2 linked regions of the Homo sapiens genome follow. The protein of the gene in region 2 interacts with the protein of the main gene of each other region in a pairwise test. Each region holds a gene or a part of one and is shown on either strand. Other genes may lie near its edges. The genes, in order: ZNF273 and CA14.

Region 1 (3,822 bases), on a different chromosome or scaffold from region 2:
ATAAAAACAAAATATAGACAGATGAGAGAGACACAGAAAGGAAAATTTCAATGTAGTTTAAAGGAATTTTTATTGTGTTTATATTTACTTTTTTGTGACTTGTGAAACAATCACTGGATCTGCAAGAATAGAAAATAAGTTGCTGGCCGGGTGCAGTGGCTCAGGCCTGTAATCCCAGCACTTTGGGAGGTCAAGGCAGGTGGATAGATCACCTGAGGTCAGGAGTTCGAGACCAGCCTGGCCAACATGGCGAAACCTCATCTCTACTAAAAATACAAATATTAGCTGGACATGGTGGTGTACACCTGTAGTCCCAGCTACTTGGGAGGCTAAAACAAGAGAATCACTTGAACCCAAGAGGCGGAGGTTGCAGTGAGCCAAGATCGCACCACTGCACTCCAGCCTGGATGACAGAGCGAAACTCAATCTCAAAAAAAAAAAAAAAAAAAACTAAAATGAATCCTGAGTCAAAAAGAAAAACAAAGGGTTTATTTAGCTGTTCATATGATTTACATATATTCAAAAAAGCAGAAAAATATCTACATATAATCTAAATGCTTTAAGAAAACAGAGAAGAGCAAAATATTCTCCCTTATTTTCAGGAAACAGAATCATAAAGCCTCTTATTTCTAATTTATATTTTCTCCTACAACAGCCAGGTCTCAGGACATGCTCTTGAACTCTTGGACATCTGAACTCAGTAGATAACTGGATTCAGGCATCTAAGGAGTAGCCTTGGGCACACTGTGTGCACTTTAAAGAATGTTTATGGGGTGGGGGGAACAGAAGAAAAGAGGTGTTATTCATGAGTGCACATGAATAAAGCAAGTTCTTAGAAACCTATGAAGAGACTTCGATTCTAGCACAGTAATAGTGGAAGAAAACAACACCCCACAGACACTATTAGACAGATTATTGAGGCAGGAAATTAACAAAGATATTAGGACCTAAACTCAATACTTGATCAAATAATCCTAATAGAAATCTACAGAACTCTCCAACTAAAAACAACATAAATGGCCAGGCATGGTGGCTCACGCCTGTAATCCCCATACTTTGGGAGGCCGAGGCGGGCGAATCACCTCAGATCTGTTCAAGACCAGCCTGGCCAACATGGTGAAACCACGTCGACTCTATTAAAATTAGAAAAATTAGCTGAGTATGGTGGCGGGCACCTGTGATCCCAGCTACTAGGTAGGCTGAGGCACAAAAATCGCTTGAACGCAGAAGGCAGAGTTTACGGTGAGCCATACAATTACGTGGAACTTAACCTGCACTTGAATGATATTTGGGTAAATAATGGAATTGAGACAGGAATCAAGAAGTTTTTTGAAACAAATGAGAGCAAAAATACAACATACCAGTATCCCTGGAACACAGCTGAGGCAGTGTTAAGAGGGAAATTTATGCCATTAAATGCTCACATCAAAAAGTTAGAAAGATCTCGATTTAACAACCTAATATCACAAATAAAAGAATAAGAGAAGAGCAAATCCCTAAACTAGCAGAAGACAAGAAAAAACTAAAATCAGATGTGAACTGAAGGAGATTTAGACATAAAAAAACTATACAAAATATTAAGAAATTCAGAAGTTAAAACTTTGAAAAAATTAATAAAATAAACCAATAGCGAGATTAATGACGATTCAAATAAATACAATTAGAAATGACAAAATGAACATTACCACTGAACATACAAAAATACAAATAACTTGGCCAGGCACAGTGGCTCACACCTGTAATCCCAGCACTTCGGGAGGCTAAGGCGGGTGGATCACCTCAGGTCGGGAGTTCGAAACCAGCCTGACCAACATGGAGAAACCCTGTCTCCACTAAAAATACAAAATTAGCCAGGCATGGTGGCGCATGCCTGTAATCCCAGCTATTTGGGAGGCTGGAGCAGGAGAATCACTTGAACCCAGGAGGCAGAGGCTGCAGTGAGCTGAGATCATGCCATTGCAACCAGAGTGAAACTCCATCTCAAAAAAAAAAAAAAGGCTAGTTCACTATAATCAAGTAGGCTTTGTCTTTAAAATGCAAAGTTGGTTCACCATACACAAATCAATAAATGCTATTTATCACATAAACAAAACTAAAGACAAAACCCACAAGATTATCTCAATAGCTGCAGAGAAAGCTTTTGATAAAATTTAACATACTTCATGTAAAAAACCTTCAACAAACTAGGCATTAAAGGTACACACTTTAGCCCAGTGCAGTGGCTCACTCACGCCTGTAATCCCAGCACTTTGGGAAGCCGAGGTGGGTGGATCACCTGGGGTCAGGAGTTTGAGACCAACCTGGCCAACACGACGAAACCCCATCTCTACTAAAAATAGAAAAATTAGCCAGGCATGGTGGTGCATGCTTGTAATCCCAGCTACTTAGGAGGCTGAGGCTGGAGAATTGTTTGAACCTAGGAGGCGGAGGTTGCAGTGAGTCGAGATTGCACCATTGCACTCCAGCCTGGGCAATAAAAACAAAACTTCGTCTCAAAAAAAAAAAAAAAATAAATTACAGATTTAATGCTATTTTATCAAATTACCAAAAAGATTCTTAACAGAAAAAAAAACTATTTTAAAATTCATATGAAACAAAAACAAACAAAACTTGAATAGCCAAGGCAATCTTAAGCAAAAAGAACAAAGCTGGAGTCATTACATTACCAGACTTCAAACTATACTACCAGGCTACAGTTACCAAAGCAGCATGGTACTGGTACAAAACAAAACAAAACAAAAAACAGGCTCATAGACCAATGCAACAGGACAGAGAGCCCAGAAATAATGCCACACACCTACAACCATCTGATCTTCTACAAAGCTGACAAGAGGAATGTGGGAAGAATTCCCTGTTTAATGGTGCTGGAATAACTAGCTAGTACTATGTATAAGATTGAAACTGGACCCCTTCCTTACACTACATACAAAAGTCAACTCAAGATAAATTAAAGACTTAAATTTGAAACTTAAAATTATACAAAAGCCCTGGAAGATAACCTAGGAAAGACCATTCTAGATATAGGAACTGGCAAATATTTCATGTTGAGGATACCAAAAGCAATTGCAACAAAAGCAGAAATGGACAAATAAGACCTAATTAAACTAAAGAGCTTCTTCACACCAAAGGAAACTATCAACAGAGTAAAAAGACAACCTACAGAACAATAGAAAATATCTGCAAACTATGCTTCTGCCAAATGTCTAATATCCAAAATTAATAAAGAACTTAAGCAAGTTTGCCAGAAAAAAAAAACTAGGAAAAAAGCATGAACAGATGTTCTTCAAGAGAAGACACACATGTGGCTAACAAGCATATTAAAAAATGCTCATTATTAATCATTAGAGAAACGTAAAGAAAAACCACAGTGAGATACAATCTCATACCAGTCAGAATGGCTATTAATAAAAAGACAAAAACAAACAAACAAACAAAAAAAAACGATGCTTGCAAGGCTGCAAAAAAAAAAGAATACTTATACACTGTTAGTGGGAGTATAAATTAGTTCAACCACTGTGAAAGCAGTGTGATGATTTCTCAAAGAACTAAAATCAAAATTACCATTTGATTCAGCAACCTGAATACCCCAAAAATACTCTATATACCCCCCAAAATATAAATTATTCTATTATAAAGACACATGCAAATGCATGTTCATTGCAGCACTATACACAATAGTACTTGTGAGCAAAGACATGGAAGCAACCTAAATGTCTATCAATAGTAGACCGGATAAAGAAAACATTATGGCTGGGCGCGGTGGCTCACACCTATAATCCCAGCACTTTGGGGGGCCAAGGTAGGCAGATCACTTGAGGTCAG
Region 2 (2,725 bases):
CCTCATGGCTGGGCTCATTTCGGTCCCTTTCTCCTTGGTCCCAGACCTTGGGGGAAAGGAAGGAAGTGCATGTTTGGGAACTGGCATTACTGGAACTAATGGTTTTAACCTCCTTAACCACCAGCATCCCTCCTCTCCCCAAGGTGAAGTGGAGGGTGCTGTGGTGAGCTGGCCACTCCAGAGCTGCAGTGCCACTGGAGGAGTCAGACTACCATGACATCGTAGGGAAGGAGGGGAGATTTTTTTGTAGTTTTTAATTGGGGTGTGGGAGGGGCGGGGAGGTTTTCTATAAACTGTATCATTTTCTGCTGAGGGTGGAGTGTCCCATCCTTTTAATCAAGGTGATTGTGATTTTGACTAATAAAAAAGAATTTGTAATTGTGGGGGAACTTGGCTTTTAAGGGAGGGGATAGCATGTTAATTGAGATTTCTGTCCTCAGATCTCTCATCCAGCCACTTTCCTAACCTGGCAACCACTGATTTCCAAGCATAGCCTTGGTGCAAGGGCAGAAATCTGGGCTAGTGGTTTAACATGTCTGAAACTTTGGGTTAAGTGTCTTCCCAGAAGCTTATCTTTCCTTCCAGGGGTGGGATAAAAGGAGTTAATCACCCATGCTTCTTTTCCCCATCCTTTGCCCATCTTTACCACCTGAGGGATTCAGGAACTTGCCCACCCTCAAGAGCCTCAAAGGATAGGCCAGAATTAAAGTCAGAAACTTTAATTTCCAAATATATTGATCAAAAATATACAACTTCAACAGCAACTCTTTATCCTAAGGAGAGATCCCGCAGTATATCTAGGGAAAGGGCCATAAAAGTGAGGGGGTAGAGGACTTTGGGGTATATCCCAAACTTCCCCTGCAACTAAACAGAGTTTGTTCTCTGCATTAACAACACAGCGATTTCCTCATTTCCTCCTACATGTTTGGAGAGGCTGAAGGCTCTGCAGTTCTTCCTGGAATGACAGCCTGGGTCCATTCCTCTCTAGGAGATGTCCAGGGGAAGGAGGACATCTGCTTACTACTCCTACAGTGTTTCTGGCCAGATCCTACACCCCATTTTAGAGGCTTCCTGATAGGCATGAAGGGAAGTCATCCACATCCATGGTATCTGAGAAGGAATTTATGCCTCAGTCGTGGCTTGTGCTGAGGTGAAGACCACACTCTTTCGGTTTTCCAGCCTCTTCTTCCTGGAAAGGGGAATGGCTCATGAGAATGACTGCTATCTAAGTGAAGCAGATTAGAGGTGAAATAGGAGAATGCTTTTTAACAGAAAAGAGGGCTGGGCAAGGTGTTTCACACCTATAATCCCAGCACTTTGGGAGGCTGAGGCGGGCGGATCACTTGAGGTCAGGAGTTGGAGACCAGCCTGGGCAATGTAGTGAAAACCCGTCTCTGCTAAAAATACAAAAATTATCTGGGCATGGTGGCACATGCCTGTAGTCCCACCTACTCAGGAGGCTGAGGTGGGAGGACCACTTGAGCCCGGGAGGTGGAGGTTGCAGTGAGCTGTGATAAAGCCATGCACTCCAGCCTCGACAACAGTGAGAACCTGTCTCAAAAAGCGGGTGGCTCATGCCTATAATCCCAGTACTTTGGGAGGCTGAGGCAGGCGAATTGCCTGAGGTCAGGAGTTTGAGACCAGCCTGGCCAATATGGTGAAACCTTGTCTCTACTAAAAGTACAAAAATTAGCTGGGTGTGATGGTGCGTGCCTGTAGTCCCAGCTACTCGGGAGGCTGAGGCAGGAGAATTGCTTGAACCCAGAAGGCAGAGGTTGCAGTGAGCTGAGATTGCACACCACTGCACTCCAGACTGAGTAACAGAGCAAGACTCCGTCTCCCACCTACCAAAAAAAAAAAAAAAAAGAAGAAGGGACTGGAGGAATGGAAAGTAGGGCCTCACCGAATCTTTCTAGCAATGAAATAAACAGCCAGGAGAAGGCAGAGACAGCCAACCAAGATTCCTACACCTAGACTCAGCATTTCACCTGGGGGAGATAAAGGTAAAAGGTGTCAGCCTAGGACTAACATAGATTTTGAGCCTTTCCCCCACTCGGTGAGGACACCTCCCCTCCCCGCATTATCTTATAAGGCTGGCTTACCTGTGGTATACGAGGATCCTGCTGTAAGAGAAGAAAATGGGTCAGTGGGACTTCAGATCCCCATCCCAGCTGGGAGCAGCACTCTCTGCTGCTGTGCCTGGGAGAATCCCCCGGGGGCACCCTGGGGTGGGGGTTGGTTCCCAGTCCAAGCAAGTCCCAGAAACCCCCTCCCCTTTTAGCCTTTTCTTCCCATTGGCTCCCTAGTTCCTGCCATTGTGTCCCCCTCAGTTTCCCATCTCTTCTGAGCCGTGCAGAATCACCTTGGATGAAAGAAGCAAAGACCATGCGCTGATTGAGAGGCTGAAGGGCTCGGTAGTTCTGTACCAGAAGCTTAGAGGGCTCCTCTTCTGTGGAGAACAATGTCCCCTGAAGCTTTTCCAGCTGAGGAGCAGAAGCGTGGGAGAGGTGTTACTTTGGGGAGTGGGAAGGGGTCTGAAGTTACAACTGTGTCTCACCTCACCTCGTTTCTCCACCACTTACCTGTTCCATTGAAATCTGGGACCTTCTATAAAAAACTGTCCAGAGCACACTCTGGTAGCAAGGGGGAGTTGTGAGCGAGCCATTGTAGCGGAAGTACTGCCCCAGCTGTTTGGGGAGCAGCTCTCTTAGGTTGAAGGGAGGCA

Evidence for each region.
Region 1: the proteins of CA14 (region 2) and ZNF273 interact in a two-hybrid assay, tested with the Homo sapiens proteins (one large-scale study listed by BioGRID and IntAct).

The regions. Positions count from the first base shown.
Region 1 is NC_000007.14:64,909,455-64,913,276, reverse strand, and holds part of ZNF273 (zinc finger protein 273), read right to left. Parts: intron 1-3,822. UniProt on the Homo sapiens protein: May be involved in transcriptional regulation.
Region 2 is NC_000001.11:150,263,057-150,265,781, reverse strand, and holds the end of CA14 (carbonic anhydrase 14 precursor), read right to left. Parts: coding exon 2,583-2,725; intron 2,484-2,582; coding exon 2,363-2,483; intron 2,124-2,362; coding exon 2,103-2,123; intron 1,989-2,102; coding exon 1,904-1,988; intron 1,190-1,903; coding exon 1,123-1,189; coding exon of another isoform or gene 1,092-1,122; 3' UTR 704-1,091; downstream 1-703. UniProt on the Homo sapiens protein: Reversible hydration of carbon dioxide.